2 separate regions of the Homo sapiens genome follow, and region 2 is linked to region 1. The links come from fine-mapping of genetic effects on gene expression. Tissue or cell type: testis. Region 1 holds a variant in brackets; the other region holds the start of a gene. All regions are shown on one strand. Distances are from middle to middle. Region 1 overlaps NRXN1 (neurexin 1). Region 2 holds the start of NRXN1 (neurexin 1).

Evidence for each region. PIP is the estimated chance that this variant, and not a neighbour inherited with it, causes the effect.
Region 2: it holds the start of NRXN1, and the variant in region 1 is fine-mapped to the expression of NRXN1 in testis (GTEx, PIP above 0.99).

What each region holds. Positions count from the first base shown.
Region 1 is chr2:50,414,663-50,420,049 of GRCh38, reverse strand. All of the region lies in intron 17 of NRXN1 (neurexin 1), which reads left to right. Among named protein-coding and RNA genes, the nearest start is that of MIR8485, 280 kb to the left of the region's middle. The variant T/G (reference allele first, on the strand shown) is at 2,739.
Region 2 is chr2:51,029,737-51,035,123 of GRCh38, reverse strand. It overlaps NRXN1 (neurexin 1), which reads left to right and starts at 2,992. Exons shown (of 23, transcript NM_001330078.2): 1 at 2,992-3,143. It overlaps NRXN1-DT (NRXN1 divergent transcript), which reads right to left and starts at 2,523. Exons shown (of 11, transcript NR_135237.1): 1 at 2,108-2,523.

The sequences.
Region 1 (5,387 bases):
CCTTCCCCAAATCCTCTTTATCTCTGCTGTCTCATTCTCTTTAATTTAGATTTTCATTACACGTGTAAGGCTGGCCAGATCACGTGTTCTGTTTTAGCCATGCATTCAGATGTATTTGGTGGGATGCAGAAGCATTAGCTGGGATACAGTGGAGGATTATTTCAGTGTTATTGGTACCAAGTAAAACTGAGGTTTCAAAAAGAAGTGTGTCTATTTAAGTGTAAAATTCACTAACCATCTCTCATAAAAGCATATAATGGGAGGAGATACAAATATATATTTTCTGTTTTCATGGTGGAGAATTTTTGTTTTAATGTTTTTACATTACAAAGGATAAAGTTTAAGTATTTCCAATTTACTCAAACTATTGTATGTATGCAAATTTGTAAGATACACCCACCTGCCTACTTTCTTTATCTCCGTTTCTTTTTTCCTTCCTTCTCATTTTCTTCCTTATTGCCTCCCTTCCTTTCTTTTTTCTTTCCCACTGAGAAATAATGAAAATTGGACAAAAATGCAAAAGAATACCCAAAATTTCATCAGTATACTACCAGACACTAGTTATTACTTGGATGATAATGGCATTTGCATTATTAGCAAGAAATACTTTTAATATTGGGCTAGAATGAATCTAATGAGATTGCAGGTCAGGGTCCAGCTGATGCAGAGATGAATTATTCGCTGTGAAACTTTAGCCAAGCAACCAAACTGTCACATGCTGTGTCTAAGAACTGATACTTGCAGTCCAAAACTCATTACCAAGTATGTCTTCTGAAAGATATGATTCTTCTGAAAGATACGATTGCCTTAATCTCTTTCAGATATACTATTTATTTAAGCCTGCAGTTCATTGCCTTAAGAGTGTGATGATTTTACACCTATGTATCAAACCTGGAGAAATTGACAGATCAAATGGGAACATCTGATTTAAAAGTGTGATTCAGAAGTCATTGAGTTCATTCATTTGATGACAATTTTGGGGCAAATCATGGCCCCTTCCTCAATTGTGTATTTTGTCTTCACTTATGGAATTGATTTGAAAATATTCAAAGGAGAGTCAAAGATTTTTGTAACTTAACTACAATAAAAATATGATTTAAATGATAAAAAGCTTAAAATAAAAAAGATTTTTGTAACTTAAATATGATAAAAATATGATAAACCACTTATGCCTTTAAACATGTTAATAGACATACTCAGAGTAGATTAATGGATTTGCCATATATATTTTAATATTTTTATTACTATAGCATCTAAGGTATTTAAAAATATATGCATATTTTGCCTGTGTTTGAGACTGATTCCTCTGCTACAGCATAAACATTGATAATGGTGTGAAAATATTTTGTATTTCCCTTGATCCCTGGATGAATTTGCTCAATACCAAGGGAGTTCTCCTGTACAAGGGTATGCCTTTTTAAAAATTTGCTTTTAATGAAAATTTTAAAATCAGAGAGAGAATAATTGTTGAATGATGATTGAGCTAATCAAAATGTACTGGGCTTTCTGAAAAGACACTAATCTAAGTTCCTGCCAAATACAAAGCACCGCTCCCTTTCTCCGTTCCAGTCACTCAAAGAAATAACTTTATTTGGAGATTTTACAATTGTTAGATCTGTAATACACATTTATGATTTGCAGCATCTAAAATAAAACAGCTGTGTGTGTTGGGGGAGGCTGCAAGGAGGGTACACCATGTGTTGAGGAATGAGTCTGAACCACATTTATACTTGGTGAAACTTGTTGGGATAGTTGCACATTCATTCTTGGTGAAACTTTTTGAGCCTGTTCAGGACTCAGTGGAGATTCCTGCTTGCTTTAGAGATATAAGAAGAGGCACGTGCTCAGTGAACCAAGAAGGAAACCCCTCCCTACATTCCATCGGTCACTTGTTTCATCTCCTAAATAACTCTCAAGTACAAAGGAAATAAAATCCTTTTGATTTTATTTTTCCTCCAGCTTCTACCCTGGTTCAGGTCATCATCATGGTGACCTCTCGGTTAGACCTCTGGAAGAACTAGTAATCTTTCTAAAATGCACATTTGGTCATTTTATTTTTCTGCTTAAAACTTCTCAGTACTCCGTTCCTCCACCTTGCCTTCAGGATGGTCCTTCTTAATCCACATGTGATATTTTAGCCTTCTTATCTGTGCAGCCCCATCTATCCCTTATTCCTTCTTTACATTTTATACTTCTCTTTGTGATCCTGCACTTTTCGGTTTCTTGGATGTGCGTTCTTTTGGACTTTGTTGCTTTTTCAGTACATTTCTTCTTTGTTTCTTTAATTTTTACTCTTTTTCCAGGCCTCAATTCAAATGTTACTGCCTCAAGAAAGCCTTGCCTTCTCCCTCCCCACCAAACAAGTTATGTCCCCTTCCTATGTGCTTTAACAGGGTTTTCACACTTATTTAGAATTGTGATAGCTAGGTTATTTGTAAAGCCATCAGACTCTGTAGGAGCTTGGAATTTGTCTTCTGGACCAAGCACAGTGCAAATCCCTACTACCAAGCAGAATGTCAGGGATACAGCAGAATACCTAGGACCAAGCAGAATATCAGGGTTTTAACATTGTCAAAAATCATGGATGGCTTCCTTCTCTTCAGAGAAATTTTAGTCTTCTTCATTCGTAGTGAAGCAGAAGCTTTAGGAAAACAAAAGATGCAGTGAGAAGTCAAAAAGTTACTCTGCTGCCCCTTTTATTCTGTACCCAATAAAATAGTACACAGCATTCAGATATT[T/G]CTACATTGAATTGAACTTCCTCTTTATAAAACTTTGGCTTGAAATGTGTATCCAGATCAAGAGCACACTGTCTTCCTTTTCTCAATCTTGTGGAGGATGGGTTGAGGAGGCAGGCAGATACAGATACAACTGGACATCTGCTTGTAAGGAAAACTGGTTTGACCGCTTTTATAAAACATGACTGGAGGCAGAAATGAAATTCAGTCTCAATCTCTTTCCTCATTCAAGGTAGGTTTAATGGGTGGGTCCCTTCTTCATTTTTTATGTAACTGTAAAAAGGAAACCGTTACTGTTTTTTGATTAAGATTTCAAAATGAATCTGTGTAAATATTGCAGTTTCATTTACTGCACTAATGCAAAATATAACTTTCTGAAAAAGGTATACACATATCCTAAACAATAGTTTACATGGTTTGGCTGTGTCCCCACCGAAATCTCATCTTTAATTGTAGTTCTTGTAATCCTCAAGGGTCGTGGAAGGGACCTGGTGGGAGGTAATTGAATAATGGGGGTGGTAACCCCCATGCCACTGATAGTGAGTGAGTTCTCACACGATCTGATGGTTTTATAAGGGGCTTTTCCCTCTTTGCTTGGGACTTCTCCTTCCTGCCATCATGTGAAGAAGGACATGTTTGCTTCCCCTTCTGCCTGATTATAAATTTCCTGAGGCCTTCCCAGCCATGCAGATCTGTGAGTCAATTAAACCTCTTCCTTTATAAATTACCCAGTCTTGGGCATTTCTTTATAGGAGTGTGAGAACAGACTAATACAATAGTGAAAATGTATAATATATTATTTTCATATGTCTCCTAAAATAGAAGGAAATAGAAATTATTAATTTTATGGTGAGTGAAATAGAGCATAAGACCAAAGGGATATTTGGGGAGGTCACCTGGGACTGGTAGAGGGAACACAAAGCTTAAGGTAGGTACAGAGGCCAGCAGTCACATTAGTGTTTCTCAGCTTTCTTTGCGCATTTTGTTCTCCCAACCTTTTACTTTCCTGCCTTCCTCCTGTCTCCTTTCTTGGTATATTTTATTTGCTCAGTGAGGCCTTTCTTACCCTATTAACATTTACAATCACTTCCACCACTTCCAATTCTCTCTCTTTATTGCTCTGTTTTCCCCCATAGTACAGAATACAATTGATCTTATTATATAGCTTAGTTATTCTGTTTATTGCCCATCTGTCTCCACTGAAGTATAAGCTCTTTGAGGGAAGGAACTGTTGACTGTATTGCTCACCATGGTATTCCCAGTGGCTAGGATAGGGCTACCATATAGGAGGTACTAAACAAATTCTTTTTGAATGAACAAATCAATGGTACTAGTCCAAGCTTTTTTTTTTTTTTTTTTGTATGTTGTTGAATAACTACTAACAGTTGGCCATAAAAATAGGAATATAGAATTTGAAAGTGATTCACAGTGATGAAACTACAAGCCTCTACAGAGTTTGTCTATTTTTTTCTGTTTTTTTTTAATGTAATTTAGCATATCACATTGTGAGAGACTATGTCACAAGATCTTCTTGAATTAATGCAAAAAGATGTAACTACGAGTGATAAGGTATTGGTCCTGGACTCAATATTTATGATGATGTGTGGTTATTTACAGTTAGAGAGACTTGTGCATTTTTATACCCTAGCTGATTTTATGTTAAAACAAATGTAAATGGTGGTTAAGACATCTCTATGGCTAATATTTCACATGCCTCCAGTGAGACCATAGCCTAATATGCTGTGGATCTGAAGTGTAAATTCAAATCATTATCCATGCTTCATCAGAACATTTGCAGACTCTATGCAGCGTGTGCTAGAAATGTTGGAGCAAATGATATCTTTATCACAGCTTCTGATCATCACATGATGAGACAGCGCATTTCCACCAATTCATAGTGCACTTTGTCAATCTAGTGAAGAGAAAATACAATGATTAAATTATATTTGAGCCATAAAAAAATACACCTTACACTGCAACCTCTGGTGTCTGGTTGCTAAAGTTAATAGAAAATGAGTTCTGTGAAAGGGAAAGTGCATTAATCTGTGGAGTTAAAAATAACTTTAACTGTAATTTAATGTATTTAATGTGAACTACCTTGTTATTTTTATTTTATAGAAAGACCTTCAGTTAGTAATGATTATCTTCTTTTTTCAATTTTAAAAGCACTAAAACTCATTGCCTACTCCCTGCTTCTATGAAGTCCTTCCTATGTACCATTCCACAGTTTTTGTCATTGTCTTTACTCCTTCATGTAGAACTATGTTTAATGTGCCTGATCCATGTCATAGTTATGAAGTGACAAGAGAGTAATGGGAAAGATGAAGGGTGTCCATTGAAAGAGCTTCAGTAAAAATTTTAATTGTAAATTATTTCTGTTATATATGTATGGTTTGTTTCTGAAATTAATAGGTTTCAAATGAAATTTTCTTAAGTTCAACATAGTCTCCCTTCTCAATTTTTACAGTTTATTGATATATTTGGTATTACGAACGTTCATATGACAAAATTGATGCACTTTAAAATTAATATAGAAATTCAAAATGTACTTTTAAAGGTTATACAACCTCAAAACACTCTCCTTTTTAAATGGTTATAGTATATACATTAAATTTTTCTTTTAAGCTTATCATTTAATAATTTTCCGAGGGA
Region 2 (5,387 bases), 620 kb before region 1:
CATTGGTAAAATGAGTGAAATCCTAGAACCTACCTCTTAGAGTTGCTGTGAGGTTAGAATAAGTTAATGTAAGTAAAGCACTTGGAGCACTGTTTGGCGAGGAGTAGGCACAAAATTAACATTCAATGTTGACATTATCTCCACCAAGTCATATAAATGGAGATGCCATTATCTTTATTTTACTGATGACAAAACTGCCACTTAGAGAGTTGAAGTAATTTATGGAGAAACAACAGAAAAACTCATACTTTAAAATAAATTAACAACTTTTATCATTAAATTATGTTGTGATATTTGCATTCTAAGCTACAAACTGATACTTTTCTCTATGCATATTTACTGAAAAAAAAAAGATCCTGGGGCTGTCCACTTCCTTGGACTACATACAGTAAGTACCTTAAACCTGATTGCAAAGGGGATTACTCCAATACATCATCTATTCCTTCAGTTTATATAGTTTGTGTGTGTGTGTCAGGGAGGCAGTGGTGAAGAGATGTGGGAACACTGGTCTTTTTAATCTGAAAATTCACACATGCAGCATAAGAATGTCAACATTTTTTTTAAATCAAAACACCACAGAAGACATCTCAAGGAAAACCTTGATTCAGTGGAAACACTGTGTAGCCCAATTAAAGATAAAATAAAAATTCACAAAGACGAAATGAAATAAAGTAGGAAATTGTTCAGATCACATGCACTGGTGGTAAATAATGAGTTTTTATGAATCCAGGTAAAAGGCAGTGCTTTGACTCTTAAGAGTGCCTCTAGCACTACCATAATGTTCACTGATGCATGTTCACACCAGATCTTAAGAGCATCATGGAACCAAGTTAGACTTGATTTTTGAAAGTGGGCTGTCCATTCCACTTACTTTTGCAATAAGCTTTAGCTCTATACTAAACACATCGCGGTGTACCTTCTGTACTATTTGTCCTATAACCTAATGGTAGGAAAAATTGAAAAAGGCCCTGAATTAACTAGACTGTTTTTTTGTTTCAAGTTCACTGAATGAATAATTTAGATAAGTAATTTTCTGAGTCTTAGTTTTACATCATTTAAAATTAAATTTTTGTTTTAAGAATCATGTTAACAGCTATTATTTCATTACATTCCCAAAGCAATCTTATGGAATAAGCTGACAATGACTAATACCTCTATTTTATAGTCAAAGAATTCGAGTTTCAGAGAAATTCCTTCCATTGAGTCAAACAGAACACAGAGTGGGTTGTAGTTGATAAATATAGCCAAAATTCCACAATTTGGAATCCACAATTCCAAATATGTTATGTTTATTTATTCATTTCATCTTCACAACATCAAACACATGAAGAGGGAGCTATTATTATATCCATTTTACAGATGAGGTGACTGAGGCAGCATAAGATTAAGTATCTTGCTGAGGTTACAACTAATAAATGGCAGAGATTGAATTGAAGCTCAGACAATCTATTTCCCAAACATGTAACCACTTGACAAAACTGCCTCTCTAAGGGCGATAAACATATTAAAACCTGTGATACCCGCCTTCAGGTTATTTAGACCCTTTTACAAAAGTAGTGAAAGTATAAATCGGCTTATCATAGGAATGAGTTCTAGTTTTTTGGAAGAATATACATATTGTAATTGTAATATATATTATTTTGATGTTCCCAAATTTATCTAGTTCTTAAATTCTTGCTCTATAGGGCCTGGAGGCCAAAAATAGTCTTGCCTTACAGTATTTGAGGTTCAGACTATTAGGTCTGTGGCGTTGCAATAAAAATGTCTGTATCTGCTCCAAAACTAACCCAGGCTAGGAATATACAGGAATAGGAATTTAAATGTCCATAGGGTGCAAACCATAATTTAAAGCCACAGACCCCGAACTCCTCTACCACCTAATCTGTAAGCTCCCTTAGATTTAACCCCTTTCTCACCAAACCCAGCAATGCCTATTGGGCATGCCCAGTTGCATGGTTAGAGCCTCACACCCAGTTTTACTTTCACCAGGTTTTACCAGCTGCAAAAGGGAGGAGGAGACGGAGGGAAGAGTTAAACAGGTAGAAAACTTGGTTCAAGACAGAGCACAGAAGGCTGGAGAATGACGACAGGCTGCAGTAAAAAGCACCTTGTCAGACACAGTTGATCGTCGTCTGCAAGTTGGCATCTTACCCTGGTGGGTTCCTTTTACATCTTTTTGGCACAGCCTAGGCAAGTCATGAAGATTTGTTGTGATTACCCAAGGCAGAGCCACAGTAAGGGGTGGGGCAAGGGACATCGGATCTAGAAGAATGCCAGTGCCTGTGTGAGTCTTGCTTGCCCCTGCATTCCTCGAAAAGCTGCAGCTTCTTTTCAAGGGTTCCGAGCAGGAGACCAAGGTGCACAAGTAAAGCCAGAGCTCATCATAATTATCGACTCCTTGGCCCCTTCTCTTTGACTGCTGGACCCTTTCCTGGCACCCTCTCAGGTATCCCCGCCCAATCACTACCAAACCCCGGAGAAGTGGAATCTCCATACAGCTTTCCATGGGTCTAGCAGGGGCCTGGGCATGCTCAGTAGGCTACGTGGTTCTCTGGTTCGTGTTCGTTCGTTCTCTCTCTCTCTCTCTCTCTCTCTCTCTCTCTCTCTCTCTCTTTCTTTCTTTCCGATGGGGAAGAGAGGGTGGTGACAAGTTAGAAGCGCTTGCGGAAGGTCCCCGCCCCCAGGATCAGGCTCCCCCTGCAAGGGGACGATGCAAAGGTAAAAGCACCTCGCTCCGCAGCATCCAGACCTGGAGGGGCTGCGACCACGGGCCGAGCCCACCCATTCCCCAGCCAAAGGACGGGCCCGCCGCTCTCCATGGTACTGCGGAGAGCTCAGCTCCGCCCTTCTCTTTCAGAAGGACAGCACCCGGCGTCACGTAACCCAGCCTTCTCAGGCTCCACCACCGCCTTTTCCTTCCCAGCTCTTTCCCTCTCCTCCCCCTCCTCCTCCTTCTCCTCCTCCTCCTCCTCCTGCTCCCCTCCGTTGCCTGTTCTCCCCTCCCGCACTCCTGGAGATAGACGCTCAAGCCTGACGCCTCTGAAAAGGCAGCAGCAGTCGCCTTATCCATAGACCTCAGGAAATTCGCTTTGACCGATGCATGCTTCAGGCTCTGGCTCGAGCTGAGGGGAATAACCGGGCAGGTAAAGAAGCTCAATTTGGGTTGGGGGGAGGGGATGGGGCGAGGCAAGCTGAAGAAGGATATCTTTCCCCATTGTAACTGAGCCAGGATCTGCCACAAATACACAGGGAAAGATGGGTGGTGGGAGGGTGGAGGAGTGTAGATCTTGGTTGTTTTGCATGAAGCCTTTTAAATAGATGGCAAGAAGAGATGGTGGAACTGGGGTAGTAACTTAAAGGCTGAATGCAGTGATGTATTAGCAAAAGAAAGAAAATAAGAGACAGGCTAGATATCAAAGCAATAAAATATCTCTCCATATATTTCCTTCCCTACCTCATCAGCCCCACACTGTGCCCATCGTTAATTTGTGCAGTAGACCCCGAGCTCCAAGAAACTGCACTGGTATTAGAGATGGAGCTTAGAGACTGGGCGGGAAAGCCAGAGAGAATTTTGGCTGTGCATTGGTATTGAGAGACTTTGCAAAAGCCAGGGGTGAAATAATAAGCACTTCTAAAATTTCTCTCAGAGATTTCATGTTCTTTATGAAGATATATATATATATTGAAGGGTGCATGGAAAGGTGTAGGTGTGTATGTGTGTGTGATATCAGAAACATTAAAATATGCAACTGCAGCCGATGAGCGTACTGTATTGATCCTCCTAGTGACTTGGGATGAATTTGATTCTAGAAATGAAAGAAAAGATTAATGATGCTGTTAGTCTGCTTTTGAATTAGAGCGCTTCTTCTTTTGGCTGCAGTAAGGATGTTTTTCAGATCCCTTTATTTCATCCTCTAATTTGTGAACTGGCCAGGTCTTTCTGGCACCTAGAGAGAATCCTCTTTTCTCCATATAAATACAGATACTCGCTCACATACAATGAGCTTCCTCCAAGAACTGGGAAAACCAGTTAACCTCCCTGTGATAAGAATGTATATATATCTATATGTACATATATATTGCTCTACGGTTTTTCTCTCTTCCACCATCCCTTAAAATTGTCAAGGTGTGCATTAGTGGAGGAGGGCAGGAGGGACGGGAGAAAAAAGGTTATGTGATCAATGTAACATTAATTAATACAATAATTGGCTCCAACAGAGTTACACACACAAGAAAAAAAAAAAGGTTTTCTAACACATGAGCTTGAGAAAGGGTTCAAAGCACTACTCTTGATCATGATATTCCAGATTTATTTTGCAAATGACTGAAAATTTAGCAGATTCCTGAGTCCACTTAAAATATGAAAGTATACTGAATAATATGCTATTTCAGATGATTTGACGAGCCTCTTTCCTCGGGTTTGATATAGGAGAAGACAAGATATGACTGGTGATTGCTGATGGTGTGGAATGTATCAGCCATAATAAATAAGCAACTGAGATTTTTATTTCCTTTTGCTAGTGGGCAGTGTGTATGTGCGCACACCCACACTGTGTGTGTGTGTGTGTGTGTGTGTGTGTGTGTGTGTTGAAAGAGAGAGAACCAGTCATCAATTTCATCTGGGAGGAACTTGAAGTGGGATACCCTAGCTTGGTGGCTCTCAGCTGACACCTGTGGGGATTGCTCTGTACTGAAGAGAAATGCTCTCAGCTCCCCCCATGGAGAAGCAGCAGCACAATGCGGTGCCATAAATTACTGCTAGTTTCAGCTTGTAAGGGAAAAAAAGTGTTAATTGGGTAGTGAGCTTCTACATCCAGACAATAAATTTGGGGTGTGTGTGTGCATGTGTGTATGGTGTATATATATTGCAGTGTGTGTGTTTGCAAGAGGTGGGGAATATAAGAAATAGTGAGAAAAATAATGCACTTCCTTGACATGAACAGATTATACATTTGTAATTTTTTTCAAAAGGTAAGAGTAATTTTTTGGTTAAAAAATGACTTAGGAAAAAAATCAGTGATTATGATTTCTGTACCATTTCAAGAACCTGTCAGATTAGAGTTGAATAAAGAGAAGTGATTTAATAGTATAGTGAGTGATTCAAAGGTACGGTTTTAAATTCTAGCATCCTGGAGCCACTGCAGCTGAGATGACATACATGCCAACAGCTCTTCTGACCACACAAATTGTGAGGGCTGACAGCAAGATACAGACTTCAGGAGGAGTTAGATCTACACTTTTAGGCAAAATATTAAATACTTTATGCACCTTTAGAGAAGTTAATATTAGGGCAATTGAGACAATGCCAAAAACATAAATCTGGCTCCAATTAGTGGTTTTCTTTTACAACAGATTATTCATTAATATAAAGGAGAACTATACTTGTG